Linked DNA regions of Homo sapiens. The protein of the gene in region 1 interacts with the protein of each later gene in a pairwise test. Each region holds a gene or a part of one and is shown on either strand. Other genes may lie near its edges.

The links.
Region 2: the proteins of PRMT2 (region 1) and FIP1L1 interact in a two-hybrid assay, tested with the Homo sapiens proteins (2 studies listed by BioGRID and IntAct).

What each region holds. Positions count from the first base shown.
Region 1 is NC_000021.9:46,641,898-46,658,316, forward strand, and holds part of PRMT2 (protein arginine N-methyltransferase 2), read left to right. Parts: intron 1-1,637; coding exon 1,638-1,742; intron 1,743-2,408; coding exon 2,409-2,591; intron 2,592-6,560; coding exon 6,561-6,722; intron 6,723-7,677; coding exon 7,678-7,842; intron 7,843-9,908; coding exon of another isoform or gene 9,909-10,109; exon of another isoform or gene 10,110-10,947; coding exon of another isoform or gene 10,948-11,157; exon of another isoform or gene 11,158-13,200; intron 13,201-16,419. UniProt on the Homo sapiens protein: Arginine methyltransferase that methylates the guanidino nitrogens of arginyl residues in proteins such as STAT3, FBL, histone H4. Acts as a coactivator (with NCOA2) of the androgen receptor (AR)-mediated transactivation.
Region 2 is NC_000004.12:53,418,851-53,435,269, forward strand, and holds part of FIP1L1 (pre-mRNA 3'-end-processing factor FIP1), read left to right. Parts: intron 1-7,021; coding exon 7,022-7,115; intron 7,116-9,176; coding exon 9,177-9,333; intron 9,334-16,419.

The DNA.
Region 1 (16,419 bases):
ATGCTCCTGGCATAGGGAAAAGCACGAAGGGTACAAATAGACAGTAAGGTAAAAAAAGATGCCAGCAAGTATTTTAAAAACGCCTAACCACACAAAGAGAGGGAAATGGAAGTAACAACAGTGATTTTTACCCATGAAATTGACAGAGACTAAAGTGATTGGTATCTATTGAGTGAGAGTGTGGGAAGATTGGTGGTTCCCTCTCAGCAAGCGGTCCAGGGAACACCTTTCTGGAGAGCACTGGGTGGTAAAACCAAAAGCCACATAGTCTCAGTCCATCAGGTTCACATTCAGAGACTTACCCTAAGAAGATTAAGGTACATACAGAATGATTTATGTTGAAAGAAGTTCATCTTAACATGATTTAGAATAGTAAAAACTGAAAAGTCTAAATGTACAAGACTAGGAAACTGGATAGGTAAGTCCTGATAATTCATAGACTGGATATTAAATAGTGTTAGAAGTATATTTAATAAGAAAAATGTTCAGAGTTTATAAAGTGAAAACCATAGGCCACAGGCTTATTGTGTGAACCCAGTGAATGCTTTGTACTTATGTTACGTGTCCACTTTTTTAAAAGTCTGAAAGTATAAACACCAATGTGCTGTCTGTTATTATCTGTGATCAGTGAGCAAAATTACAGGAGGTTTTAATTTTCTTCTGTGTACTTGGTGTTTTCACACATTTTCTAAAGTAAACACGAATTACTTTTATGTTTAGGAAAATGTGTTTAAAATGTATGTATTGAGACAAGGTTGATTCATTGAACTGGAGTGTGTGATCTGAGGTTCTGCCCCCTGCAGTGATGTCTTCCAGGCAAGCTTATTCTTATATAAAGTGAACGGCCAGGCATGGTGGCTCATGCCTGTAGTCCTAGCACTTTGGGAGGATGAGGCAGGTGGATTGCCTGAGCTGAGGATTTCGAGGCCAACCTGGGCAACATGGTGAAACCCCATCTCTACTAAAAATACAAAAAATTAGCTGGGTGTAGTGGTGCACACCTGTTGTCCCAGCTACTTGGGAGGCTGAGGCATCAGAATCACTTGAACCTGGGAGGCGGCAGAGGTTGCCCTGAGCCGAGATCATGCCATTGCCCTCCAGCCTGGGCAACAGAGCAAGACTCTGTCTCAAAAAAAAAAAAAAAAAAAAAATGGAGGGGTTGGGGGAGGCTCCAAGGACCTGTGTGGGTCCAAGCTGGGCTCTGCTGCCTCGTGGAGGTTTGTGCCATGCCATCAGCTCTTTCCACAGGCCCCTGGCTGTGCCTGCCTGGGGCGCTGGGCCCCTGGCTCTGTCCTCACACTGGTTTCTCTTCATGGGGTTGATGATCACCTTCAGGAAGCAAAGCTGATGAAGGACAAGGGCTCCTCACCAAATAGACACTAGTGGTGCCTGTTTCTGACTTCTTGCTTTGATGTTCTCTTTTAGGGTCCAGATAATTTTTTTTTTTAGAAAAGAAATGTAGAGTGAAGGTGACAGCCTTTGATTATAGTAGTAAAGATGATCCAAATAGTTTGTATAATAAATACTTGGACACATGAATCTGTATTTGAAATTTGAAACCATCCTAATAATATAGCCAAAAAAAAAAAAAAAAAGCTCCAGCGTCCTCTCCTCACGCTTTCCTTGGCTTTGAGCAGGGAGAAGAGCCTGCTGAGTGCAGTGAGGCCGGTCTCCTGCAGGAGGGAGTACAGCCAGAGGAGTTTGTGGCCATCGCGGACTACGCTGCCACCGATGAGACCCAGGTAGCCACACGTGGTGGTTAATGCTTTATGGCTTTCAGCATGTTCAGTGTCAAAAGGAGATAAATTTTGCAGACGTCACACCAAAGTTAAATGAAGAGGTATTCAGATGCGTAGGGCCACACAAGACCTGTGTGTGAAGCTCACAGCCCAGCCAGTTCTGCCTCAAGCATGATGTAAAGATACGAGGCATGGAGTGGGGACCCTCAGCCAGGGGCAGAAGCACCTGTTCTGGTTTCTACTTGGAATGTAGAACCCACCCAGTTAATGAAAAGTAAGGCTACCAAATATATCAAGCTATATCTGCTTGGACATAGCTTTGTTTACTTTGTGACAGGAATTTCTTAGAGTCAGCCTCCAGTAACTCAGTTGGCATAGTTGAGTTACAATGAAGAGGCTGTTGAGAAATTCTCTCCTAAGCCATTTGAAAATGTTTACTCCTTCTTTTAAAAAATATCTGTTAAGCTGTGCCCTCCTTTCAGGTAGATGTTCCAGAGGCATCGCTAAGTCATGGTGTCACTTGCAAACATTCTCAGTTGCTGTCATTACCCACTGACTCCTGTTTGAAATCTCTGTGATTTTGTCACCATTGATGGGATTTATCACTGAGCCACATTTGAAATACCAATGACTGGTTTTCTTATTGAATTTTAACTTTTTTTTTTCCAGCTCAGTTTTTTGAGAGGAGAAAAAATTCTTATCCTGAGACAAACCACTGCAGATTGGTGGTGGGGTGAGCGTGCGGGCTGCTGTGGGTACATTCCGGCAAACCATGTGGGGAAGCACGTGGATGAGTACGACCCCGAGGACACGTGGCAGGATGAAGAGTACTTCGGCAGCTATGGAACTCTGGTATTGCTTTCTAAATTCCCTGTTCAGCTGGCCAGGCGGTGGGTTCTCTCTAGCTTTAGTTCTACTGCAACGTTCAGAGCAGGCCCATAGTCTTACAGGCCAGAGCTCCTCTGTTGTAGCCACTCAGCTCTGACATGGTTGTGTGGAAGCCACTGTGGATGACACACAAAGTGTGCACTGTTGTGTTCCAATAAAACTTTATTTATGGATCTTGAAATTTGAATTTATACTGTACAGTTTTCATGTGTCACAAAGTATTTTCTTTTGATTTAAAAAAATCATTTAAAAATGTAAAACCCACTGTTAGTTTGGAGGCCATCCAAAAACAGGTGGTGGGCTAGATTTGGCCCATGGCTTAGTTTGCCGACCCCTGGCTTAGAGATATGATTTGAGCAATGAGATTATGTGCGTGCTCCCTCAGTATTTAAAAAAAAAGCAGTAAATTTTACTTTAAAAATGAAATTAGGCTGAGTGTGGTGGCTGACACCTGTAATCCCTACACTTTGGGAGGCCAAGGCAAGAGGACACTTGGCTTGAGACCAAGTGTTCAAGACCAGCCTGACAACATAGTGAGAAAAAATAAAAAATATAATTCGTCTCTACAAAAAAAAAATTAAAAAAAAATATAATTAGCTGGGCATGGTGGTGCACGCCTGTAGTCCCAGCTACTCGAGAGGCTGAAGTGGGAGGATTGCTCAAGCCTTGGAGGCCAAGGCTGCAGTGAGCCATGATGGCGCTGTTGCACTTCAGCCTGGGCTACAGAGCGAGAGCCTGTCTCAAAAAAAAAAAAAATAGAAAAAATTCTATAAATCTATGAATAATACTACTTAGGTCAGGTGTGGTGGCTCATGCCTGTAATCACAGGACTTTGGGAAGCTGAGGTCAGAGCATCACTTGAAGCCAGGAGTTCAAGTCTGTGGTGAGCTATGATTGCGCTACTGCACTCCAGCCTGGGTGATTGAACCAGACTCTGTCCCTAAAAAAATAATAAAAGCCCAGCTTCTAAATAGCTTACCGAAATTTTTTCCCCACCATGGAGAAATGCCTATAACCCGATGGTCCAGGCAACAATCTCTGGTTACATTTTAAAACTAGATGAAAACAGTTACTTGCAGGATGAATGTTATAAAAATGATGTTAGTTGAAAGAAGGAATAGGGCAAAGAATCTATAACGTTTGACTCAATTATATAAAGTTAAGAGGCCATATTAGAAGGTTTTTTGTTTGTTTTTGTTTTTTTTTTTTTGAGACGTAGTCTTGCTCTGTCACCCAGACTGGAGTGTGGTGGCAGGATCCTAGTTCACTGCAGCCTCTGCCTCCCGGGTTCAAGCAATTCTCCTGCCACAGCCTCCTGTGTACCTGGGACTACAGGTGCGTGCCACCATGCCTGGCTAATTTTTGTATTTTTAATGAGGGGGTTTTGCCATGTTGGCCAGACTGGTCTTGAACTCCTGGCCTCAAGTGATCCTCCTGTCTCAGCCTCCCAAAGGGCTGGGATTACAGGCATGAACCATTGCGCCCGGCCGGAAGGTACTGTTTGTGAGTGTGCATGGGTGCTGAGACTGACTGAGGGCAGGAGTGGCTCCCCTGTTGGTTGAATGGAGGTTACCTGCTGGTAGGGGAGGCTCTGGGACCAGCGTGGCTGAGTCAGGAGTTCTGACATGCTGGCAGTGTTCTGGGGTTGGATATAGGTATAGAGGTGTTTGCTATATAACAATACTTGACTAACTCTGCAGATACTTTTTATTGCACTTTTTCGCAGGTATGCCATATTTCACAATTAAAAGTGTTAAAAACTATTCATGTCTGTACATGGTTAGTGATTTCTATCCGTTAAGGAAAGATACATAATGAAAAGCCAATTCCAGCCTCCCACCTCTGCCGCCTCTCAGCTCAAAGAACCACTGCCCACCAGATTCCTCTGTGCTTATGAAGTCCAAGTGACACCTAATGTATTTTACGTTTTTAATGTATAGAAAAGGCATTGTTCCACCACTCAGGTCTTCACCTTGCTCTTTTCACGTAGCTGTAGTATTTTGAAGATCTCTCATATTGGCACCTGTCACTCTTTATAACAGCTGCAGAGCGTTGTGTTACTTTAAAAGGGTCCTGTTGATATTTGGACAGTGGTTATTTAATAGCTTTTTATCATGATAAATAATGCTGTAATGGAGTCCTGTATAATCCTGTTAAATGCTGTTTAGAATTTCTATAGGGTAAATTCCTACGGGGTGTGTGTGTGTAGTGTGTACATGTGGTTTCCTTAAGTGGATCTTGCCAGTTCGCCCTCCAGAAAGATTTGCTAATTATACACTTGGTCTGTTTGTGCTGCTGTAACAAAATACCTTAGACTGAGTGAATTATGAAGAACAAAGCTTTGTTTCTCGCAGTTCTGGAGGCTGGGAAGGCATTGGCATTGGTGTCCAAGATGGCGCCTCATGGCTGTCCTCACGTGGTGAAGGCGGGAGGGCTGGGAGCACCTCTTTCACCACAAACCCTTTCATAGTAACCTCCAAAGGTGGCCTCTTAATGCCATCACACTGACGATTAAGTTTCAGTACATGGATTTTTGGAGACATTTCAGACCGTGGCATGATGGTGTGTGAAAGCTCATTTCCCTACCACAAATCAAAGTGAAAAAGGACTTTGATCTTAAAAGTTAAATATGGCATCTTTTAGTTTTGATTTCCATTTTTTAAGTAAGATTGATTATCTTTTATGTGTTTATGGGCCTTTTGTATTTTTTCTTTTTTTGTAAACTTTCATATTATTTGCCCCTTTTGATTTTTGTTGATTCGTGTGTTAAGTAATTTAGCCTGAATTTGTGAAGTTTTGTGACTTTGTGAAATTTTTTCCCACGTACAACTTTTTTCTTTGTATAGCCTAATATGGTTTTCTTTTCTTTGTGACTTCTTTTTCTTTTCTTTGTGAAAAACCTTCCTCACTATAAGATTATAAATACCCACACTTTTGTTTTCAGAACTGTTATGATTCTGTGTTATTTTATTTTTGTTTTTTATGTTTTTTAGAGATGGTGTCACACTCTGTCGTATGAGTGGCTGGAGTGCGGTGGTGCAGTCATAGTGCACTGTATCCTCAAACTCCTGGGTTTAAGGGACCTTCACCTTAGCTTCCCAAAGTACTGGGATTACAGGGGTGAGGCACCCTGCCTGGCCTTCTGATTCTATTTTAAACAATGAGATTTTAAATAATAAAAAATCTAGAAATTATTTGTTGTAAAAAATATAATGTAAAATTCCGCCCTAATGTATGCCCACAAATCTCCAGCGACCCCAGCCTCAGTTACTGGACAGTTCCCTTCGCGTTGATGTGAAACGGTGCGTTTGTCCTGCTCTGGATTTCAGGGGTCTGCTGTAGAATTCCTGTTGTTTCACTGGTCTGTTTACTGCAGTTCCCAGTGCTTCGTCATTTCCATCACTGCACCTTTGTAGGATCTGCAAGAGCTAGGTCTCCAGCAGTTCTTTTTTTTTTAAAGCATTTTCCTCATTAGCCTTGGGCACTTACTGTTTTGAAACTAATTTTATTATCATTTTGTTGTGCTTTCTCCTTTAGTAGGTACTGCATGGAATGTTTATGTTAATTTTGGGAGAGCTGACATCTTTATAACATTGACTCTCAGTCTCTGATTACTTAAGCTTTGTTTAATATCTCTTAGTATTTTAAGATAAGGACAATATCTCTTTGTCATACATGGTTGTGCACCTTTCTTGTTAAATTTGTTCCTAGGTATTTTTTGTGTATTATTACTGTTATAAGGGGGTGGGTGAAGTGTTCTCTAAATACCAATGAGATTAACTTGGTTGACAGTGATGTCCAGGCCTTCCATAGTCTTCCATAGGGGTGTTGGGGTCAGGGGTCATCAGCTGTGGCTCTGACCCTCCATCTCAGTCCAGACCTCAGCATGGCTCTAGGTCACAGGCAGTGATTCTGAATGTGCATTTCTTCCAGAAACTCCACTTGGAGATGTTGGCAGACCAGCCACGAACAACTAAATACCACAGTGTCATCCTGCAGAATAAAGAATCCCTGACGGATAAAGTCATCCTGGACGTGGGCTGTGGGACTGGGATCATCAGTCTCTTCTGTGCACACTATGCGCGGCCTAGAGCGGTGAGTGGGGTCTCGAGCGCATCCCGGGTGTTTGTGCCGAGGCTGGTGACGTCCGAGGTGGCCTCTGAGTGTGCTGACTTGTGACCCTGAGCTGTTGGGGGCTCACCGGTGACTCCATGGTCTTGTTGAGCACCCTGCACGTGGGGCTCAGGGTCGGTAAAATAGCAGTGCGTGGAGACCGCGTGCTAGAGGCCGTGGCGCCCGCGTACAATGAGTCGCAGACAGCACAGACGGGAGTAGGGCAGAATAGACAATATCCCGTGAATTGCGTGGGGCGGGGTATGTTCTGTGAGACGTTTATTTCAGTTGAGTAGAGAAACACGTGCACCCACATGTCTGTGCTGGGCCTTGGGTGTGGTTGGTCTCATGGGGTTGGGAGGGATGCACACGCTGGGCCCCCTCCCCACCCCTCTTAGGCCGTCTATACTGTGCTGAGCTGAGCCGAGCTGCAGCCTTGGAGACTCCTTACACAGTGGGTGGGGTCGCAGCACAGTGTCCACCCAAGTCCAGGCTCTGCAGGACCCAGGACCCAGCGCTTGGGTGCTTCCCACCAGACCCTTCCCTGAGAACCTGGGTTTGAAATTGTCTGACAGGCCTCAGATGTGGCACAGACCAGCATTGTCACTTGGGTGCTAAGAAGTTGCTGTGCTGGTCATGGATTAAGATTGCTGTGCGTGTGGCAGCCGGCTCGGGCATGCGAGTCTTCCATCCACTTGCAGCCCTGCGTCTGTGTCTTGTCCGGGAGGTGGGGGCAGTTGGGAGGGTTAGAGGCGGCTCCTTTCTGGGTGCCCCTGGAGGGGCAGGTGTGGCCAGTCCTCGCTGCCTCTGCTGTCTGGAATGCTGCTTCCCTCTTGTGTCATTGACCATTTCTCGTGATGCTGGTTGTGACTCAGGAGAGTAGATGACGGGCCGTGTGCCGGCCGGATGTACGCTGACGGTGCCTCTGCTGCTGCAGGTGTACGCGGTGGAGGCCAGTGAGATGGCACAGCACACGGGGCAGCTGGTCCTGCAGAACGGCTTTGCTGACATCATCACCGTGTACCAGCAGAAGGTGGAGGATGTGGTGCTGCCCGAGAAGGTGGACGTGCTGGTGTCTGAGTGGATGGGGACCTGCCTGCTGGTGAGGGCGGGCGTGCGGGCAGCTGGGGGCCGGAGCTGGGGGGCTTCTGAGCACGGGCTCGGCTGGGCCAACCTCAGGATCTCAAGGGTCGTGCGTGATTCATTTTGATGTTTTCCCTAATGTGAGGTCTAATTAATTTCTTGTGTGGACATTGGCTCAGTGTCTTGAATTTTCACCTGATTTAAAAAATGCCTTTATGAGAAATTTAAGTCAAAGTTCATGTAACATTTTCATGAGTGATTTACATGAACTGTGTTCTCCTCGGGGATCTGTAAAAATCCTGTGCCTAACAGGTAAGGCTGTTTCTTTAATGCCAGTAGGGCCTTCGTCCCTGGCCAGGGTCTCCTCGCCTTAGACTGGCCCCAGTGATGCTGTGAAGCCACTTGGGCATCTGTAGGGCCAGCATATGCCTGTCCTGTCAGGGTTGCTCACCCTGAGTTTCACATGTGGGTGGAAGTGGACTGTTTTCTGGTTGCCTGTGAATATGCCCTGCACAAACGCTGTCTGCTTGGAGGGAAGTTGACGGGAGTGTGGCTGGATGCTGTCTGCCCGCGCTGTCTTCCTGGGCTCAGCATCCTGGGACACAGGACATTGTAGTGGAGCATCCCAACCTGAAACTTTGTCTCAGTGTAGAGACCCAGAAAGATGGGGTCTGGGTGAAGGAGTGTGGAGTATGGCTGCTGCTTTCCAGGAAACGGTTTCCCCTGGTAACAGATGGCATTGGGCTTTTAGTCCTGTTGAAATTTTGTTGTCAGAAGATAAATGTAAATAGACTCAATGTCCATGCTGTGACTTGGCTTATTAATAACATCTGTGGAGCCATAAGATGACACACAGGAGAAACGGGCTCCACTCCTACCCCCTGAAGGGGCATTTGCCTTTGCCCTGAACAGCAGCGCCCATTCAATAAGTATCTGTTGACAGCTGGTGCCCCGGCCACGGGGACAAAAAGAGGACAGAGCAGGAGTGAGGCTGTGGTGAGGCCAAGGTTGTGTGGGCGGTGATACGGGGAAGCCTGGCTGCTGGAGTGTCCGGCTGTGCCCTGGATTGGGTGAGAGGGACACAGGAGGGACGTGGGGCAGAGGGAGGGGAGAGGAGTAGCCACTGTGTTCACCGTGTTGCCGTGTTCCAGGGCTGCCCAGTGGCCGGATTGGCCAGACTGTGTTGCATCAGGGAGGCAGAGGCCAGATGTAGGGAACTGTGTGTCTGAGGACTTTGTGCCACGTCCTGGACACCGAAGGGAGTGCCACTGGTGTGTGAGTGATGGAGTAAGAGGTGGGCTGTGTTTTGGAGGCCCCTGGGTATGTGTGGCCGGGACTGGAGGCCAGGGACTGGCTGTGGTCCAGCCCCAGCATGCAGAGAGGCCTGGGACATTCTGTGTGAGGGGAGGCCCCTCTGTGTGGGAGGTGCACAGACTTCCAGGACTGACCATGGCTTTATTGTCAGGATGCAGGAGCCAGGGCTTGGCATGGGGCAGGTGTGGGGGATGCAGAGCAGGGCCAGCAGGCAGGATGTGCTGATGGGGGCCTGGCGTGAGCAGGACGGTGCCTCCCAGCCCTGAGCCGCAGGGAGTGGGCCACCAGGACTGGCTGGGGGCCGGGGTAGGGAGGGCCCTGGGGAGGGTGGACATCTGTGTGGGTCTTGAACATAGGATGCCCATCCGATGTGCAGGGCCAGCTATTGGTTGGGCAGTGGGGACATGGCCTGGGGTCTCGGTGGGCGATGGCCTGGAGGGGCCACCCTGAGCAGGACATTTGGAGGAGTGCTGGGGTGAGTCAGACAGGACCATGTGGTGGTTTTCTCCAGTGCAGGCAGTGGAGGGGGAAGGCGGAGCTTTGCAGGTGAGGGCTTGAGGCAGTTCCGACTTCAGACTCCCCCCCAGGGAGACTGAGGGACCACCACCATCATTACTCAGGCCAAGGAGGCCCAGAACAGGGCAGACGGGGCTGCAAGAGTTCCTATGGCGATAGTTGTTGGGGCACAGGGTTGGTCGGATTTGAGGGAGGGAGGGTATGAATCTGGGAGTCGTTGGTGCGGTTGTACCCACCTTCACTTTCCGTCCCCAGGCTGCGCCTCTCCTGAGCTGCCGCATTCTCCCCTGCACCTGTGCGTCTGGCCCTCTTCACGTCCTCCTGGCCTGCTGTCTGCCTCTCCCCTGCACCTGTGCGTCTGTCCCTCTTCATGTCCTCCTTGCCTGCTGTCTGCCTGTTCTCAGAGCCCCTCAGCCCTCAGGCCTTCATCTCTCCTGGCCCATCTTCCTACTCTGACGCTGACATGTAGTAAAAGTCTGAAGACAGAGAAGAGTGCATGTGCGTTTAGCATAGGAGGGGCAGCTTTCAGTCAGTGCAGCAAGGGCATGTAGTTGTTCAGAGATGGTGCTGGAACGACTGATTTGGAGAAAAGAGGCCCTTCTTCACACCATCTGCTAAAATAAACCTCAGATGGGCTCAAGAGTTAAATATTTAAGAAAAGGAGGAAACAAAAAAATTGCTACAAGTTTATTTGTTGTTAGGATGGGAAAGGTTTTTCTAAGAACCAAGTTCATAATGAAGCTGTCAAATAAAATACTTGACAAAAAATTCCCCTTCATACATTAGCACAGCTAAAAACTATTAAATGGTAAATGCAACTAAAGAATTGCAGCTAAAGAATTGTGTGACGTAAAGAGTTGCAATAAGAAAAGCATAAGATAAAGGTAACCTCATGGAAGGTGAGCAGGGACTAGAAAGGCAGAGAAATGCCAGAGGCCAGGAGCTTGAACGTTGTTCAATGCCACCAACAATTTGAAAGTAACTGTAATAGTTTTGACCTGGGAAGTTGGCTGAGCAATCCTCTAATATCTGATGCTCCCGATGCTGAGGTTGTGGGGAAGTGTGCACCGCCATGCCCTTTTTTTGGCAGTGTAAATTGGTAAAGCCTTTTGAAGGAAAATAGGGCAGAATAAGTCAAAGAGCATTAAAATTTTTTTGTTTTTCCAGAAGCAGCAAAGTTCTGAAGGAGACGCAAGTAAAGATACCACAGGTGTCCTAGATTGTCAACAGACCATTTAATCATTTTTGTTAACAAAGCAGGTGACAATTGAGCCCTAATTTGCGTTATCATTAGTTGTTACAGGATCTTGCTTGTTCTCCTGAGGCCACGCCACGATTTCCGAGAAGCAGGTTGCACACTCAGCAGTCTCCCACTAGCCAGTGGCACTGCAGGTGCAGGGGCTGCCTCCTGGACCTTTCAGGACGCTTTGCAAGGTCACTGAGGATCTCCATTGCACATTTGGTAGAATTAAAAGACTGCCAGACTCAGTCTTACTGTTGTTAGTGTATTCGTGCTGTCAATATGTGATGAGGACATATTATATTCCGTTATTCTCTTTAGCTCAAGGAAGAATAAAGAATTTGGACCAAAATTACAACCACATTATGACGAATTTTCTAAGCAAAAGAAACAAAGTAACTGCTGAGGTTAACAAAGATGTAATAATTCTCTTCACACAGCCTTGTACTGTTTTATTGACTGTATTATCACAAATCCTGAGCTTAACGAAAGTCTTTATAAGTCAGCTCATGAAAACAGGCACGTGGCCAGTAAGAATTTAATTTCATACCAATAACACTTCAGACTTCGGATGTATTTAAGGCTGTTTGCACATATTTATAGAATGTGTGGTGTAGATGATGGGACAGCTCCCCCTCAGCAAGACTCTGGCCTAAATGTATTTGCTTTATTTACACAACAAGAGGATAAGCGTAAACACGGGCACTTTCAGTTTGTGGCACTGAAGGACGATCTACACAGGGCACCCTGCAGAGGCCACAACCAAGGCCGCCTGGCTTCCCAGTGGGACAGGCCTAAGGGAGGACTTCTGGCCCCTTTGCTTGATGTTCATGTTTTATGCCTTGATATTTCTTTTTGGTTGCATTCCCTGGAGCTCATGTAGATCATTTTACTTTTCAGAGGTGCTAGTTCTGGTGCCCACACGCACACACACAAAACCATCAACTCTTCTGGATTCCTTGGTTTTAAAGCTTGCCTCATACAAAGTACAGAGACATCTTTTTCAGGAAACATTGCCACCACATGCTTGAAGGACCGCTTATGGCTACACTTAGACATCTCCAACCAAGGTCTCTTCACCTCCTTCTACAACAATGCACTTTGTCTGCACTGGGACAAAAAATGACAGCCTTTTTTCTTTTCTTGTTTTTTTTTTTTTTTGGCGTGGAGCATTTCCGAACTTTCACGTCATAAAAAATGCAGCATAGTTAATCAGCAGCTTGCACTTCTGAGGGCACATTCACCTCGGGGGAGGAGGAAGGAGGAGGAGCTGGTGGGTGCTGAGACTGCAGTGTCCTCCTTCCCAGCAGCTGGACCCAGAGACCAGGCACCAAATTTTTTTGATGAAATTATCCTAAGGAAATAATCAAATTTGTACAGAAATTTATGTTAAAAAATGTTCATGGCAGCACCGTTTAAAATGGGGAGAAAATTGGAAACAACAGAATTGTAGCAATACATATGATCATTAAAAATTATGTTTTAGAAAGATTTTTAACAGTCTTTGGAAAAAGTTGGTGACATGTTGCTAGTTTTTAAAAAAAGTACAGAGTATGTACAGTATGATTCCAATTTTGTGTTTAAAAATTAGACATAGTGGTAACCTAGCTTCAGTTCCAGATAAGATGGAGAAGGCATACTCCTTTCATGTCTCCCACTGAATGCAGCTATAAATCCTGGAGAGTAGACAGGGAGAAACTATTTGAGGACTCTGGAACAAAGACATAGTAGCAATCGACTGGTGAAGAAGACAAGAATTTGAAGTACGGTCAAGTATCTGTGGGCTCCACATCTGTAGATACAACCTACATGTATTGAAAATATCAGAAAATAAAAATAACAATACAACAATAAACATCAATACAAATAACACACCAATACAGTATAGCAGCTACTTACATAACACTGACATTGTATTAGGTAGAAGTAATCTAGAGATGATTTAAAGTCTGTCGGAGGATGTGTGTAGCCTGTATGTAAAAACCACGTTATTTTATATGGGGGACTTTAGCATCCAAGGATTTGAATATCCACGGGGGTCCTGGAACAAGTTCCCCATAGACACCAAGAAACAACTGTATTCCTGAAACAGTCTTGAGTTATCATTTTCTTTCTTCTCCCTCTATGTATGTACATAGAGTGTACATACATAGAGTGAGAAGCAAAGAAGGTCCATGAAATGGACCAATTCTTTTGAAAACTGCAAATTACCACAGTTCATCTAACATGAAATAGATAACCTGAATGGTCCAATAACTAGTAAAGATATTGAATTAATAGTTTAAAAACCTTCTGAAAGGTAAATCTCTACCCTAAATGATTTCACTGGTGAATTCTATCAACACATTTAATGAAGAAAAAACTCCAGTTCTAAACAACTTTCAGAAAAGAAGAGGGAACACTTCCTCACTCATTATATGAGGTAAGCATTGCCCTAATACCAAAACCAATGTTAACACAAAATATGAAACCTACAGACCAATAACCCTCATGAACATAAATGTAAAAATCCTCAAGAAAACATTAGCAAATTTAAACCAGCAGGATATAAAAGGAATAATAATACACCATAACAAAAAAAGAAACTATCCTTGGAATGCAAGGCTGGTTCAATATTTGAAAATCAATCAGTGTAATCTACCATATTAACAGTCTGAAGAAGAAAAATCATGATTATATCAATACAGAAAAAAATTGACAAAATTCAACATCAGTTCATGATAAAATTCTCAGCAAACTAGAAAGGGAAGGAAATTTAACATGACATAGGACATCTACAAAAAAACCTACAGAAAATCCTAAGGAGTCTATGAGAAAATTTCCTAAAACTAGTAAGTGAGTTTAACAAGATCACAGAGTGCAAGGTCATCATACAGAAGTCATTTTTATATCTTAGCAATGTACAATTAGAAATTAAAGAATATCACAGTAGCTTCAAAAATATGAAAGGCTTAGAAATCTAACAAAATGTGATCTGGATGCTGAAAATGATGAGATGATAATGAAAGAAACCCCAGAAAACCTAAATAAATGGAGAGATAAGAAGGCTCAACCTAGTAAAGACGTATGTTCTTTTTAAATTGATCTGTAGACTTAATAAAATTCCAATTAGAATCCAAGCAGGATTTGTTCTTATAGATAAGCTCATTATGAAATGTATATGGAATGTAAAGGAACTAGTGCTATGGTTTGTCCCCACCAAATCTCATGTTGAAATTTGATCCTCAGTGTGGTGGTGTTGGGAGGTGGGGCCTAGTGGGAGGTGTTTGGGTCATGGGTGTGGATCCCTCATGAATAGATGAATGCCCTTCCTCGTGGGTAGATAAGTGAGTTCTAGCTCTTTCAGGTCCCAACAAGAGCTGGTTGTGAAAAAGAGCCTGGCACGCCCACTTGCCTCTGCTCCCACCCTGTGGTCTCTGCACGTGCCAGCTCCCCTTTGCTTTCCACCGTGAGGGGAAATAGCCTGAAGCCCTCACTGGATGCCCAATCCTGAACTTTCCCAACCAGCAGAACCATGAGCCAAATAAACCTCATTTCTTTATAAATTACCCAGCCTCAGATATTCCTTTTTGGCAACACAAAAATGGACTAAGAGAACTAGAGTAGCTGATAGAATTTTTTAAAAGAAGGGTAAAGTTGGAGGAACTATACTACTTGATTTTGAAGCTACAGTAATCAGGACAATGTGGTGAAGGGACAGACACGTAAGTCAATGGAATGGAGACGAGAGATTTCTACAAATATGGTCAATGGGTTTTTTTTAACAAAGGTACAAAAATCAATTTAATGGAGAAAAGACAGTCTTTTCAGCAAATGTTACTGGAATAGTTGTCATCCATATCTAAAAAACAACACCTCAACCTCACATCTCATACACAGCTGAACTTAAAATTGATCATAGATCTAAGTGTGTGAAATGTAAAACTATAAACCTCCTTGAAAAAATCATAGAAAATCTTCATCACCTGGACTTGGGCAAAGACTTTTTACTCTAAAAGCGTGATCCATAGCAGAAAATGTTGATAAATTGAATTTCATCAAAACTAAAAATGACTGCTCTGCAAAAGGATGATGCTAAGAGAATAAAAAAGACAAGCTAAGATTAGGAGAAAATATTGCAAAGAACATATCCAGTGTGTGTTCTGAATATACAGAGAAATCTCAAAACTCAACAGGAAGAAAACAAGCCAATTGAAAATGGGCAAAATACTTGAACAGACACTTTACCAAAGTGGATATACAGATATCAAATACACACATGAAAAGATGTTCAGCATAGCCATCAGGGAAATGCACATTAAAGCCACAGTGAGATATCACTTACACCCATTGAAAAATGACTACAATAAAAAAAAAATCTGATAGTAATACCAACTGTCATCGAGGATGAGGAACAGCTGAAAGTCATGCATTGCTGGAGGGAACATGCCACTGTGGAAACAGGTGGGTGCTTTCTTATAGACTTGTATGTGCACTCACCTTATGCCCAGGAGTCCCTCTCCTGTGTGTTCAACCCAGAGATATGCAAGCTGTGTTCACACAAAAACCTGTATGTGAATGATTATACTAGCTCTCTTTATAATTGCAAAAAAAAAAAAAACAAAACCTGGAAACAACCCAAGTGTCCTTCATCTGGATAATCCTTAAGGATAAACTGGTGCGTCCACACAGTGGAATACCACTGAGCAGTGAAGAGGAGCCAGTTATTGAAACAGGTAATTTGGAGGAACCCCAGAAACGGTACAGTGAGTGAAAGAAACTTGTCTTGAAAGGTTATGTACTGTTTGGTTCCATTTGTATGATATTCTCAAAAAGACACAAGACCATGGGGATGGAGACCAGATCGGTGGCTGGAGAGGCTGGGGTCGGGGAGGGCATGACCACCAGAGAAAAGGGTGAAGAGTGTTTTGGGTGGCAGAGCTGTGTGTATGCTGGCTGTGGTTGTGAGGACAAAATCCACACAAGCGCTCAAGTTCGTAGGCTGTACGCCAGAAAAGCTGTTTCACTACATAACTGAAAAAATAAGATTGAAAAATAAGATGTATATATTTTTTGTGTGCGTGTGTAGAAAAATACTTGAAGGTAAACTGCAGAGTGATAACAGTGGTTCCTTCTAGGTACTGGGTTAATATGTGATTTTTATGTTTGTTTGAGCTTTTCTAAGTTTTCTACATTTTCCGTACAAAACATGTATTACTTCTGTAATAAAAGCAGCTTGAGATTATTTAAGGAAGCAAAACACTTCTGTTGTTTCTCATCAACTACAGGATGAAGTGCAGGCTCCCTGGGTGGTTTGCAGGGGCCACAGGCCTTGGCCCCACCTCGCTGGTGCTCCCTCTACTCCTTTCTGTGTTTGAAGCAAGTTCTGGTTCAGACAGAAAGCCTGGCCTTTGAGGGCGTTGGGTCCCCACTTCCTCAGTCATAGATGTGATGTGCTTCCCTTGACTTGGGACCTTCTGAGGGATGCAAGGTGGACCAAAGGACCCGTGAATGGCCAGGGCATGCCTGCGTGGCTTTCGGTTTCTT
Region 2 (16,419 bases), on another chromosome or scaffold:
ATATTATATCTAAGAATGACCTCTTCCTCTGACTATCTCCTTTTATGTCTTGATGAGACACTGTACTGAAAAGATGTGCCCATACCTTGGGGCATTTGATCAAGTGCTCTGAATGCATGTTGCTATAGTGTGTAGTTTGTAAGATTTTATGTTATTGGACATATGAAGGCCTTTGGGGTTTTTTGTTTGTTTTTTTAAGATTCTTGTAGAGCTGTGTCTTTTCCTATCATTGATACATTTAAAAGCATGAAATTAAGCATAAATATGGAAGGTAGAGCTTTATTCCAAGCTCTGTACAAAAGTGAGTAAACTTGTTTGCACTTTTGAACACACTTATGTCCTCCAGTGAGTGAAATTTGGGCTTATTTCACCTTTAAACATTCAAGGTTTTTTTGTTTTGTTTTAAATAGAGCTTAAAAATTGACATTTAAAAAATTCAGACCCCAGAAAATTAGTATGATAAACACTGTTGAAGAAGAAGGGAAGGGGTTTGAAGTTGGTTATGCTAAGCCTGAATCCTAGTGCTGCCACTTTACAATGCAAAAGAGCCTCTTTCCACATCTGTGAAAATGAAACTAATTGGATATGTACTTTACTTTTTATTTTTTCAAGACAGAGTCTCACTCTGTTTCCCAGGTTGAGTGTAGTGGTGGGATCATAGCTCCCTGCAAACTCGAACTACCAGGCTCAAGCAGTCCTCCCATCTCAGCCTCCCGAGTAGCTGGGACTACAGGCATGCCCACCATGCTCGGCTAATTTTTTATTTTTTGTAGAGATGAGGTCTCACTATGTTGCTCAGGCTGATCTTGATCTCCTGAACTCAAGTGATTCTCCTGCCTCGGCCTACTCCCAAATCACACCTGAGATTACAGGTGTGAGCCACTATGCCGGCCCCATATACCTTAAATGTGATGTACTTGTAAGGATTAAATAAATTCTAAGCTGTGAAAGCACCTATTTCAGGGCTTGAAAGATAAATCAGCCAGGCGCAATGGCTCACGCCTATAATCCCAGAACTTTGGGAGGCTGAGGTGGGCGGATCACCTGAGGTCGGGAGTTCAAGACCAGCCTGACCAGGCCAGGCGCGGTGGCTCACGCCTGTAATCCCAGCACTTTGGGAGGCCGAGGCGGGTGGATCACGAGGTCAGGAGATCGAGACCACGGTGCAACCCCGTCTCTACTAAAAATACAATAAAAATTAGCCGGGCGCGGTGGCGAGCGCCTGTAGTCCCAGCTACTCAGGAGGCTGAGGCAGGAGAATGGCGTGAACCCGGGAGGCGGAGCTTGCAGTGAGCTGAGATCGCGCCACTGCACTCCAGCCTGGACGACAGAGGAAGACTCCGTCTCAAAAAAAAAAAAAAAAAAAAAAAAAAAACCAGCCTGACCAACATGGAGAAACCCTGTCTCTACTAAAAAAAAAATTAAAAAAAAAATAGCTGGGCGTGGTAGCATGCGTCCGTAATCCCAGCTCGGGAGGCTGAGGCAGGAGAATTGCTTGAATCCAGGAGGCAGAGGTTGTGGTGAGCTGAGATCGTGCCATTGCACTCCAACCTGGGCAACAAGAGTGAAACTCCATCTCAAAAAAAAAAAAAAAAAAAGATAAATCAGACACTCAGTGAGTGTCGGATCTCCTCTTTCATCATGGGCTTTATCAGTCTCTTTAAATGTAGTACTGATAGAAAATAAATTGTATGTCCAGAAAAGTGTTTTGAATTCTGTGATTTTTATTTTAGACTAGGTTCTTTTTCTGGGCGGGATTTTTCATTAATAAATTGTTACTCGAACATTAGAATATATTTTCTTTATAAATTGTGTATATACTGTAGAGAAAATTATTCTTGTGCTTGTGGAAGTAAAACGTACACACAGGTATAGAAACAGTACCATTTCAGACCAGTCATGTTGCCCGGGCTGATCTCGAATTCCTGGGCTCAAGTACCACAAAACTAAAAGATCTGTAGAAAAATATGTAATCAATGATATTCTTATGTTGATGGATATGACTTTAAATTTTTCTTGAAATAAATATTAATTTTTTATGAGCTACTTTAAGTTCTTTCTGGAGGGAACAAAATGTCTAGCAGTCTCTTGAACATGCCCTTAGATTTGTAGTCTTCAACTTTGACCATATTGGAATTACCTAGGAAGCTTCAAAAAAGTATTGATGCTGGGTCCCAGAAATGTAATTTTAAATAGTCTGGTGTACACCCTGTGCATCAGGATTTTGATATGCAGGCAAGGTTGAGAACCACTGATTTAGAGCCTTGATTCTGGGTTGGCATAAAGATTAAAATCAAATGATAGCTAGGCACCTACGGTTTTGAAGTAAAATGATAGATGTAGTTACAATGGGAGCTGATATTTGTATAGCATTTTACAGCCTCACAGTCTTTTTCTTTATGTGCTTCTCATTTAATTTACATTTTCTGCCTCTTTGAATGTCTTTTGGTTGGTAACCACTATCAAAGGTGCATGATACTTCTGTTGCAAGCAAATGGATAGGTAATATATTTGCCACGTAGAAATTGTGCACATATCTACCCCTCTCCATCTTTTCTCTATGCTCATAGTTGTCCCTCCATCTGAAATGTTCTATCTTCCCATCCTACATGTCTTTTAAGGCTCATCTCTTTCCTAACGTAGCTTAAAAGATGCTACACAATTTCCATGCAGAACTGTTTACAGCCATCTATTTACATATGTGACCTGAATTAAATGTCATAACAAGTGCATCTCTTTTCAAGTTGGGAATATGAGATAGCCACATTCTAGGCTTTTTCTTAGCAAATGGACCTTTGAACTGTTTGCTGCCCAGTTCTTATTAGAAGCCCTTCTGTGAGAAAACATTCATAGATGTCTACATTGATATGTGATTCACCCATTCTTTTAGAATATGGTTATAAACTTTCAAGCAATAATTCAAGCAATATTTCAAGCAAAATAATTTGAAAATTTGCTATAAACTCTGGACTTTTGCCTGGAAATTGCATCTATACATATCTATTTATTTAGAAATCAGGGACGTCCTGATTCTTCTTTAGAGAACCATGTTGCTAGTTAAGAACCTGAACTGTTCTCAAAAGCACAGTTACATTATTAGATCAAGCCTAACCATTAAGAGGGCTAGATACACAGACCACGTTGTTTTGCTTCCCCTGATTAAATTGCTCTTATTGAATTGGGCATTGTTGTGCTTCACTCAGCATTAAAGGGCATTTTGAGAAATAGCTCTTTAAAATTCAATTTTTTTTGGTAGGAATTTTGGAGACTTTATTTCCATATTTTTGAAAACATGAGATTGCAATCCATTAGTGGGTTGTGAAACAATTTGGTGGTCCCAACCAGTATTTCTTGGTTTTGTATTGTTTCTTTTGCTTTTTTCCTATGCTATATTTAAATATTAATAAAATTACATTTTATCTTAGTGTCACCATTTTTCCTTTTTTAAGTATTGTTTCATGAATCTTTTTTAGTTTTTAATGTATTGTGGGTACTGGATTGCTGTGTAAAGTGTACTTCTTACTGTGTTTTGTAGTCAATAAAGTTTAAAAACTATTGTACTCATATTTTCTCTTAGACTCAGAGGAGAATCTTTTTCTGTTTATTCTCATTTGTAAAATGACAATAATGAGAGTTGCTACCTTATGGGTTTATCATGAAGACTAAATATATATAAAGTATTTAGAACAGTGCTTACCTTGCGCATAGTAGGTGCTCCATAAATACTAGCTGTCATTACCAGGAAAACAATCTTAGAGCAAATGCTTTGTTTTAATCTTAATGCACATTAAAGACATTTGTTGTTAATGATGTCCTTTGCTTTGGCTTCCAAGAAAAAGCAGCTGAGATATATATATATGTATATATATATATTTTTTTTTTGAGACAGGCTCTTGTTTTGTTGCCCAGTCTGGAGTGCAGTGGCACAATCACAGTTTACTGCATCCTTCATCTCCTGGACTCAAGCAATCCTCTCACCTAAGCCCTCTGAATAGCTGGGACCACAAGCATGTGCTACTATGCCTAGCTGATATTTTAAATTATTTGTAGACACAAAGTCTCGCCATGTTGCCCAGGCTGGTCTTGAATTCCTGGGCTTAAGTAATCCTCCCGCCTCAGGCTCCCAAAGTGTTGGCATTACATGCGTGAGCCTGACCTTCAGAGATCAATTTATGGCCTTTTGTCTATCTTCTATTAGCCCTGATTTGTCATCTTAAACTTTCTGTTGCATCTCTGCAGGGAGCCCTCAGATTCTTTCTGGGATATCAGAATCATCAAAATATGATAATTTAATTCCATTGTAACTTCAGAGATATTTTTATATTCATTTACTGTGCCAGGAGGGGAGGTAGAGGCTCTTGGGAACATTTACTGCCTGTTTAAACTGTACATTAACTCAGACACCCAGAGTGGTTAGTTTCTTAGCTTTTTACTAGATGGTTGAGTCCAATATGGAGAAGAGGATTTTGATAATAGCATTAGCTGTCTACCTTACTGAACAAGTTTGTTGGCCTAATCAAACCTACGCTTTGGGGAACTCTTAAGTTACAGTAGATTTCCTCATAGGGAAACTCTATTAAATCTTCTTAAGCAATGAAAGAAAAAGCTGTCCATTAAGAACTTTCGTGGAATAATATGGTTCAATATTTTTTTCCATAATGTGGCATCAGAATAATATTAGATTTTTAAATTATTTGTCAGTGTTAGATATTATGTGCTTTTTGTTGCTGTGGTACATACTGTGTGTCTTATCATAAAACATTTTGGAACAAAACGGTAAGCTTAATTTATATGATTAAAGTAAATCAGTTTATGTGGTTAAAAAATACGGGCACAAGGAGATGTTTTGAAAATGTGGAGAATTGTAATTTTCTGAACTCCCTTTAGGGATATATACTTGTTAAGGCTGATTTCTCAGTTATATGTTTTTAGAAACATAGTATTTGCCATTTTGAATCTTTAGTGATTAAAAACAATCAATTTAAAGTTGAAAAAAACTAATTAGACTTCTGACCATATTTAAGGTACATTTTAAGAGGTGAATACTTCCATGTGTCCCAGACTTTTTGAAAACTAGAGATCCTCAGAAATAAATGGTAAAAGACAGGCTATAGAAAATTTTCCCCTCAACAGGAAAGTTATATCTAGATCTAATTTTTACCACTTTTAACAATTTGGAGAATTTGCTATCTGACTTGCAAGTCCAAACAAATTTGGTAGAATTTGTTCTTGATGGGAATAAATTTAAAAATGCAAAGGAGAGAGTCCAGTGATTGGCAAGAGAAAATAGTAGAAAAGGAAATAGAGCGAAAATAAAAATTTTGACAATGGAGGGCAGCAATTAACAGAGAGGAAATTACAGCCTCAGAATGCACACCTGTATTTAGTAGGATGTTGGAATATGAAATGTTTGTATATCAGAGGGCTGATGGCATGTGCTTTGATAATGCAGTCATGGTAGGCATAGCTTTGCAATTTAAATTATAGGGAAGAAATGGAAGCAATATTTGTTTTATTGTAGAGATATTTGGATTTTTGTAACATGTGAATATTAAGATCTTTCCCCAGCTGTATTGGAGGATATGTTAATCCTCCAATGAAATCATTCATGATCTTTGGGATCATGAGGAAATCTAGGAAGTCAGTGACTCAGGCATAAAATTAGAAAGGCTTGAACATTTTTAAATTGTACTAAAGTTATAGAGAAGGGAAGTCTTAAGTGGGCAAGGGATGGTAAGTGGGAACTGACTATGTACTTGAAAACATTTCAGATGTCATGATGTGCTTTTTATAGGGCTGTCTTTGTTAGCACAAAATAATTTGTGGAGTGTTTCAAGGTCTACTTGAGATAAACTCTTACTAACTCATGATTTCCAGAAAAGCCTTAAATTCCTCAAAGGTCTTGCTGGAAGGAAACCTAGCTCAAGGGGAGGGGAGGTCTATAGTCTTTGGGATTAGAAAGACTCAGGTTTGAAAGTTAGTTTTGCTATTTAATTCATGCTTGTGTCAGTGATTTCACTTTGGACCATGGCTTGTCTCTAACAAGTATACAGTAATTTTTCAGTTTTTGTGAAGTTTAGATATAATGGGTTTGGCATCCAACCTATGGTAGCTGCTGTTATTTGTCATTTTAGGAGCCTAATCTAGTGACTGTGGAAGGATCTATGGTATTTTAATTGTTTTGCTTCTATAAAGTTTTAAAGGCAGTATTGTTCAGAACTGAAATATAGATGAAGAGAAATTCATCTAATTTGCATCCACTTTTCATTGCCTATTTCTCCAAGTGACTTCTATATCATCTTAGGCATGCATACTTTTGTAAAGTCCTTTATCTGCATAATAGCTTTTAACATTATTTTATTTAAAATACAACTTACTAGGTTTTTCTCTTAAATTTATAGCATTGTTTTATGATAGACTATTTTTCCATATCCTTATAAACTTTAAAAAGATTGTAGAGGTGAGGCGGGTATTTAAATATTTGAATTTTTCTATCTAAATGCAAGTTATCAGAAATGGCAAACTGGTTCCTTTTTTATGTTTTTTAACACTTGGAATATATCACAAGGAAAATATCTTGTGTATGTTAAAATGAGCATTATTTTCAGGCCTTTTTGGGGAATATTTAAAGTTTCTGTAATAGAGCTGTAGTATGTGTTACAATTGTAGTGGTCCCAAAATTTCCATTTGTCTAGCATTTGCTGTCTTATTTAATTTCACAAAGATAAATTTATTTGGAGACTACTAAAACTAGTAAGTGTAGAAGAGCTCTACAGAGACTTAAAACTTAACATTATGATCATTGTTGGGTATGTTGGTTCTAGCTTGTTTATTAATAAAAATTTTTATGACAATGCAAAGTAGTGAGCTTAAACTCAGGGATATTTTTCAATGTGTATTGTGATCTGGTTTTATTTTAAAATTTATTGCAAACACATTTTGTTTTTATTTCTCACTGCTTTTATTATTTTTTAAGCATCTAATTAGGTGAAACTGAATTGATTCAATTTTTATGTTACAGGAGATTACCTGGGGCAATTGATGTTATCGGTCAGACTATAACTATCAGCCGAGTAGAAGGCAGGCGACGGGCAAATGAGAACAGCAACATACAGGTTTAGTATTTTAAAATAAATAATTTTCTTTAACTGAAGGATGATATCAACATTATAATTTAATTTATTCAATAGATAGTCATAGTGCTATGCTGTGTTTTAGGTGATACAAAGAGATTTAAAATGTGAAGCCAGTCATTTATTATAAAGGCATTTCCAGTTAGAATTTATAATCTCTGAATCTTTTTTTAATAGGGTTTTCTTTCTTTTCCTTGGTAGAAACATAGTACAGGTTGAGTATCTCTTATCTGAAATGCTTGGGACCAGAAGTGTATCAGATTTTGAAATGTTTGGATTTTGAAATGTTCATACGTATGTAATCTTAGAGATGAGACCCAAGTCTAAACATGAAATTTATGTTTCATAAATAAGTTATTTAATTTGTTATAATGATTTGTTAATTTATGATAATCTTTTTTCCTTTGGCAACCCTGAGTAAACTGTGTAGTGGGCCTGAGTTTTGATTGTGATCCGTCACATGTGAGGTTGGGTGTGGAATTTTCCACTTGTGATAAAATGTTGATGCTCAAAATGTTTCGGATTTTAGAGCATTTCAGATTTCAGATTTTTGGATTAGGAATACTCAACTTGTATATAGGTTTACTGAATGAAAAATAAAAGACCACCAGTGATTTTACCACCTAAAGATAACCACATCTGGTACATCTCTTGATACTAAGCAAAATTGGGATACTATTATAATTATATTTCTGTGTATACTTTTTTCCCCATCTAAAATTATCATTTGTATGTTTTCATATTCTTAAAATATGATTAAAATATCTTCATGATAGCTTCATTGGATAAATATACCATGATTTATTTAATGTGACATTTCTGGAGGTGGCGTAGAGCTGCTTTGTTTTTAGGTGAAAAATTGAGGGGAGATAAATTATCAGTAAGTTGGATAATTAATGTTAGAACTTTAATAACTGAGACTTCCAGCTATTCATTTTGGCCATACTTTTTTTCATTATTTATTCCTATTTTCTGAGTCCTTTTAAAAATGTCCAGAGCACTTTATTCTTACCTTTGATAAGTTGATCATGTAAAATATTCCTTTTAGCATCTTTAAAGGCAAATCATTTCTATAGTGGAAGATGTTAGTCCATTTTTCCTTTCCCCTTACCATTAAAATGCCACGATTTCTCAAAATAAATACTTTAAGAAATAGCTTATCAGCATAAGCCCTACAAAAAACACTGCACTTAAATGTAGGAAGTGTTAATGGAAAGAGGGATTGTATGTTTAAAAGATTGCTTTAGTCAGCAAGGATCTGAGAAGTATAAATTAAATATACAACATTATGTTGGCTGTCTTTCCCAAATTTATTTACACATCCTTGGGGAGCTTATCAAAAATCCAGATTTTGAGGTGCCACTTTGCTTGTTTTATTTCAGTAGGTTTGGGGTGCTTCTTATGGTGCCTGTCCCTTAACCTGTTCACACAAAGAAGCATTTTGCAAACATTGCTTTATTTTTCAAGAATAAACCCTGGTCTTAAAGTTACAAGGCTCACATGATAAAGTTACTTACATATCTTGCTGCCTATTGCTTGCAGTCTGTTGACACATGCCTGACAGTTTCTTACTTTGCAACCTGGTGATGACAGGCCCTTGTACAGTGAATGTCTGACCTGCTGCCATGTTAATTTCTTAAGGCCAGTGTCTGTGATTAATGATTACATTGCCTTAATTGAATACTTCAACTTTGGTTGGGTGACAAAGATAATACTTGTTAAATGATCTTTATGAAGTACTTTTTTCTTGTGTGGAGTGTTTGTATTAATTACTTTTTATTAAGAAATTTTTGGTAATGATCCAGTTGTTTTTTCTTAAGATTTGAATATGCACATTTTTAAAACTGTATGTATGTGTATACTCACACAGGCGTATGTATACACATATCACACATGTAGAACTATTACTCTCCCCCCAAAAATACATATATGTGAATTAAACTACCTTTTACTTTGTTTCTTAGATTAAATGAAATTAATTTACTAAGATTAATCTTACATAATATTTATGCATCTGTTTAATTAACTGTGCTCTAATTTTAGGTCCTTTCTGAAAGATCTGCTACTGAAGTAGACAACAATTTTAGCAAACCACCTCCGTTTTTCCCTCCAGGAGCTCCTCCCACTCACCTTCCACCTCCTCCATTTCTTCCACCTCCTCCGACTGTCAGCACTGCTCCACCTCTGATTCCACCACCGGGTAAATAGTAAATAAGACATTTGACTTTGAAAGAAAAATAGCTTGCGAGTGTTTTTTAAAATTTTTGACAATTAAAATAATATCTTGATCACATTTCATTAAAAGTAATAGATATAATATCTTCAACAGATTCACACTGAAACAGATATATATATGTTTATTGCTATTTCAATATAGGAAAGAGACAATGTTCTAAAATTAAGAAGAATATACAGATACCAATCTTGTGATTCAAAAATATGATAATGATCCCCAAACTTAAGTTGCTAATAGAATATGTATAAATCCATACTCAGTTACAAACTTTACCAGTGTTAATTTGTTTTGAAAAAAACATTAAAAGATACTTTCAGGATGGGAGTAGATCAAAAAATTATATCTTGCGAAGAGATTGATTAATATTTCAGTCTGGTCTTCTTCTGTATACCGGTTTCCTTTTAGGAGACTGCTACTGGGTGCCTGGTATTTATTTCTTTTAAACAAAAGTAAATGTTGATCATATTTTTAGCTACTTTTGATTACAATTAAAAACCAGGTTAGTGGTGATAGAGAAGAAACTCACAAATAATTCCCAAATTTTATTTTTATTTGAATTTTTCATCGGGTTGCCTTTCTTACTTTGTTTTTAACCTTTATCTGCCTTAACCAAGTTTTTATGAAACTAGCAAGATTGATTGAGATAATAATTACTTCTTCCCAGGGAGAAAGCTAGTAGTAAATGATGAAAAAATAGCTGCTTGTCCTCATCAGGGCAACATGAAAGACGTATGTTAGGCTTTACTTCCTATTAATCAAATCAGTTTATACTAGAGAGCCATGTACTCTCACTCACTTTTATTTGCAAGAGAGCTGTCTTTGTTTTAAGGTGCCAGTTGTGATCCGAGTACAGAACCAAATCCAGGGTCTGAATAGTCCTTCCCTAACATATTCATCCTTGGCCTCTAAATGTCAGCCACTGCTTCTGTCTTTCATCTTCAGTGCCTTTGATTTCCTTCCACTGTCACCTCTACTCTCAAAAAGTATGAGAAAAATATGAAAAAATGACTTGTGGCTTTAGAGGGTCTGTTGTCTCAACAATAGTGGAAGGAAGAGGTTGGAATATAGGTTAGAGGTCCTTATTCCAGACAACATTAGTATTTCTAATTTCAGTGAATTTCTAGTTCCAACAAATAGATTGAGCAGAAACGACTCATTAGTTGGGATTGACTTGTGGTTCTTGTGTCTTTAATATGCTGAGTATTAACCAAATGAAAGAGGACTTAGGTGATTCAAAATGAGGACTTCTGTGATTTCTATGTGAATCCTTTGTCCTCTGAAAAAGAATTAGATAAATAAAAGGTAGAAATAATTAATGTTTCAACATATTTGATTAATGATACTAAAAAAATTATTAATGTTTGTGGTACTCTGTTGGATTCCTTTGTAATATTACTTAAACTTTACTAGGTAGTGATTTGAAATAATTTTCTTTTTTTAATTCTTAAAACTTTTTAAAAATTTTATTTTTGACAGTAATACTTGTATATGTTTATGGGGTACAATGTGATGTTTTGATTATGTCTACATTGTAGTAAATCAAGTTAATATATTCATCACCTCACATACTTAACATTTTTTTGTGGAGAGAACATTCTGAAATCTCCTAGCAGTTTTGAAATATACGGTTATTAATTATAGTCACCATGCTGTACAGTAGAGCTCCAAAACTTGTTTTTCTCATTTTACTGAAACTTTTGTATCCTTTGAAAATCATCTCCCCTACCTCACCCGTGGCCCCCAGCCTCTGGTAACCACCATTTTACTCTCTGCTTCTATGAGTTGGATCATATAAGCGAGATTGTGCAGTAATTGTCTTTCTGTGCCTGGCTTATTTCACTTAGCACAGTGTCCTCCAGGTTCATGCATGTTGTCACAAATGACAGAATGAAAGGATTTCCTTATTTACAAATATAGTATATCCCCAGATGGCTAACATTTTGTATGTTCAGTACTAATTATTAAAGTAAGTAGGACAGAGTTGGTATGAATTAATGACAACAAATACTTAGCTGGTATAAGAATATTCGAAACTCCGTAGAATATTGCTACAGAGGTAATTGCTACACATAGGCAGTAGCATTATCTGGAAGTTTACTTTTTTTCAAAATGATAAAATTACTTTTTTTTTTTTTTTTTTTTTTTTGGAGACAGGGTCTCACTCTTTCGCCCAGGCTGGAGTGCAGTGGTGCGGTCTCAGCTCACTGCATCCTCCACCTCCCAGGCTCAAGCGATCCTCCTGCCTCAGAGTAGCTGGTACTACAGGCGTGTGCCACCATACCCGGCATTTTTGTATTTTTTGTAGAGATGGTGTTTCGCCATGTCCAGGCTGGTCTTGAACTCCTGACCTCAAGCAATCTGCCCTCCTCGGCCTCCCAAAGTACTGGCATTACAGGCATGAACCACTACCCCTGACCATTTCTTTTTCATGTAACCTTTGTTCATAAGTATAACAAATCTTTGAAGAGTGTTTAGGTTATTAATGACATTATACTATAGAGTGCAGCTAATTATTTTTCTGTTGCTTAATCTATTTTTCTACTTAATTCTCAGCTACATGCTTTCCATATTTTAAAATCGAGATTTCCTTTTATGTTTATTCTTGGTTTACATTTCTATGCTCTTCTGTCAACATTTAATGAGTGCAGATTCAAATGAATTCTAATGCTGGTTTAAGCAGTACCTAACTGGTATATGTGCTGAGCAGGATACCAGTTCATTAAAACCAAATATTTGAAGTTGAGACTCTCTGAATTGCTCCTTACTTTTAGTAGAATGTGAGCTGTTGGGGAGCGTACAGGCTATGTATTTCTATCTATGTTTCCCTACAGTTTTAGTCAAGTGGTCTTGTACGTACTTGGCATTCCCTAATGTGTTTGCTAATTGAGTTAACGACATATTTATGTATCCATAACACCAAAGATGATTTTCGGATTTATACCTGGTACATTCAATCAGGATGGGCACTGGCTCTGAATAACAGTACGGCTGCATAGATATATGCCAGCTGCCATGCTTAAAGCTGTGGTTTTCAGTTACCCTTTACCACAGAACCACATGATTACACTATGTTCCGTAGTTTGTTGTAATTTAAATCACCTTAAGAATCATAAGCAGCTAATGAAAGAAAGCTATGATTCAGGATTCTTTTTAAAGTATTGCCTTAAAAGATATTCCATTTTTCTTAGATAAACTGTCTTGTTTTTTGCTTTCTTCAAAAATAATCAAAAGAAAATGGAAAAACATTTTTTTAAAGAATTAATTTAAATGTATTTTAATGTTGCCTTTTTAACATTAGACTTCTAATGTTTTTAAAAGTAAAGTCCAAAATATGATGAGATAAGTATAGTAATGATATTTTATTCTCATATTTTAGGATGCTACTAGATTTTTGTTTTGTTTTGTTTTGTTTTCAAATAAATAGGGTGACCATACATCCAGATTTGCCTGGAAGAGTCCTACTTTATACCTTCTATCCCAGCATAATTATTATTCATTCTTAGAAAGAAATTCCCTGGTTTAGATGATACAATTTCTGATTGACTCTTGGAAATTTACAGAGGTCTTATTGCATAAGTAGATAAGTTACTGTTTAACAATTATAAGGTGTTAGAGATAACTCTCATTTGAAGGACTTTTAATGTCAAATAGTTCACAGAAGAGGAGAAATGTATTGCCTCCTCTCACCCTTAAACACACACCTGCAAACGTATATGAAACTTTGCTAGTAACACAGAGAGGACAAAGTATTTCTGGCCATAATAGATTTGTATGAAGAGTAGAGGAGATTTATGTATTAGAATACAACAAAGAAGGAAGAGATGTCTGGAAGTGCAAAAGCATTTATCGTGGTTCCCTGCAGCCATACTAACAGTAGCTTGAAAACAAATACTGGGCCAGGCATGGTGGCTCATACCTGTAATTTCAGCATTTTGGGAGGCTGAGGCAGGAAGATCACCTGAGGTCAGAAGTTCAAGATCAGCCTGGCCAACATGGTGAAACTCCATCTTTACTAAAAATATGAAAAAATTAGCTGGGTGTGGTGGCATACACCTGTAGTCCTGGCTACTTAGGAGGCTGAGGCAGGAGAATCACTTGAACCCAGGAGACAGAGGTTGCAGTGAGCCGAGATCACACCATTGCACTCCAGCCTGGGCGACAAGAGCAAAACTCCATCTCAAAAAAAAAAAAAAAAAAAAAAAAAAGAAAGAAAACAAATACTGGCTAATTTAGTTCTTCTATAATATCCAGAAAATCTGTTATTTCATTTTCTCGTGAATCAGAAAATAGTTTCCATTGTATTAAGTTTTTTCAGAAATACATTACAGTGGTTTCATGCTTTTTCTGAGTAATAATAGATATAATAGCTAATACTTATTGAATGCTCACTTTTCAGGGTACTATTCTGAGTACATTCCATGTGTTAACTCATTTGATTCTTGAACAATATCTGAAGTAGATGATATTCTAATTTTGCACTGAGGAAGCGGGGACCTAAGTCATCTGAGTAATAGCTAGAAAATAGTAAAACCAGAATTCTAACCCAGGCAGTTTTGCTTGAAAGCCTGTTTTCTTTATTAACTATGTTGAAATGAATCAGTACCTATATCCAGAAAATCGTATTATTGGATTACGTGTATTTGTCACAGTCCTAGAAACTTTTTTTTTTAAAGCATTTCTCTGATGTTGAAGTACATGCATACGTATTTGTGGGTAGGGAAGTTAGGGAGATTATAAGGAACAGTCATCACATTTTTGAAAATCTGAATAAGGTTTTTACTGTTTGCCTGGCTTGTGTTAAGAAGTCTGTGTTTAGCTGAAGTCAGTTTTGAAATATTTGTTTATTGGAAGAAAAACTGTAAAACTGGAAGTATTAATGTTATAGGGTAGGTGATTTTGTGTGTTTGTTTATTGTGGTAAAATACAATCTATTTGTCATTTTAGCCATTTATAAATATGTAGTTCATTGGCATTAAATACATTCACAATGTTATGTAACCATCACCATGAGCTGTACCTAAAACTTTTTCATCATCTCCAGTGAAAACTCTGTGCCCACTAAACTCCTTCCCTCCTAAGGATAGCCCCTGTAACCTCTATTCTACTTTTTGTCTCTATGAGTTTCCTTATTCTAGGTACCTCATATAAGTGGAATCATGCATTTGTCTATCTGTGTCTGACTTACTTTGTTTCTAAAATAATAGAATTTAATTAATGATTGTGAGCTAACTTTATGGTAGGCTTTAATTTAGGCTTTTAAATGTTAATTTACTTCAGTGTCATCATATTTGATGTTCATTTTTTTTTTTGTAGTGGAGTTTACTGTAGAATAGAAGGTAAATTCAGTTAAACTCATTTGTTTTTGTATGAACTCTTATCAGCCTCAAATGACTAGTTCTGTGGGTCTTGGGAACAATTGAAATGTAGCCCAGTAGTGGAATTCTGCTGAGTTGAAGAAGGGTCTTTGCTTTACTGAGATATAGCCCAACTACTGTGGACCACAAACCAGGATCCCTGCTTTTAAAGTTAGCTATAGGGTTTAACTGTTTATCTAGATACCAGATGTGTAGGATTCTGCATTTTAGAAAGAAGTAGATTTCTTCCTAAAAGACTGTTGTCTTGTATCAGTGTCTGGCTAATCATCTAGTACTACTAATTTCATGAACTTTAAAATCTTATTTATTCCTTAAATATGTTAATTTCGGGTTAGGGATGATATATAGGAATCGGGTCAGGGGGTGGGGGCGGGTGGCGAGTTGCTCATATCTAGGGTCATTCTGCATTTCCTCTAAGTCCTGCATTCTCATTAGATTATTTTTCTGTTAGCAGTCTGGTTCTTTAGCACAGCAGTTCTCAAAACTTTTTGGTTACGTCTTCTTTAAACTCTTTAAAATTACTGCAGATCCCATAGAGCTTCTACTTATGTATGTTTTATCTGTTTTTTAATATTAGAAGTTAAAACTGAGAAATTAAAATATTAGAGATATGTATAATACACTCATTACATGTTAACATTTTTAAATTTCTTATGAAAAATAACTGTACTTTTCCTAGAATAATTTTAAAAATTTAGTGGGAAGTGGTCTTATTTTATGCTTTTGGAAATCTCTTTACTATGTGGCTTAGTAGAAAAAGCTGGTTTCTCCTGTTTGTTTTCACATTAAATCTATTGTGATATCACGAGTTATGTGGCCCCTGGAAACTACACTGTAAGAGAATGAGCATGAAAAAGGCAAATAACATCTTAGTAAATTTTTTTTTTTTTTTTTGAGATGAAGTTTTGTTCTTGTTGCCCAGGCTGGAGTACAGTGGCACTATCTCAGCTCACTGCAACCTCTGCCTCCCAGGTTCAAGCGATTCTCCTGCCTCAGCCTCCCGAGCAGCTGGGATTACCAGCATGTACTGCCACACCTGGCTAATTTTGTAATTTTAGAGATGGGGTTTCTCCATGTTGGTCAGGCTGGTCTTGAACTCCTGACCTCAAGTGATCCACCCACCTCGGCTTCCCAAAGTGCTGGGATTACAGGCGTGAGCCGCTGCGCCTGGCCACAGCTTAGTAAATTTATGAAAGTAGTTTTGACCTGGCAGATTCAGTAGGGTCTCAGGGACCTCCGGGAATTCCTGGACAGAACGTTGAGAACACTGCTTTGGCAGAAGCTTGGCCTGTATTGGATGAATATTATCAGTGCCCTTGAGGAAGTACACTTTTATCCCTTTAATTGAGAAACTAGTTTATGACTATAATGTTTATTAAGCTAATTTTATAATACCATGAATTTTTGGTCTTACTCAACAGATTACCTCAAATTAACTGGCACTGTTTGCCAGAAATGTAAGCATTTTCCAGAGTTACCATTAAAAAAGAACTCAAAGTTTTTGAAAACTGTATTTATTCTTGTGTTTTTCTATATTCAATTTAAAAAGCCTGCCTATCAGTGTTTTCATTAAATTCAAAACAGAGAGCAATGCTAATTATCTATAATAAATAGAATTTTCTGGCACAATTAAAATTTATTTAAATGTAAATTTAATAGAGATTAAAAGCTTTCT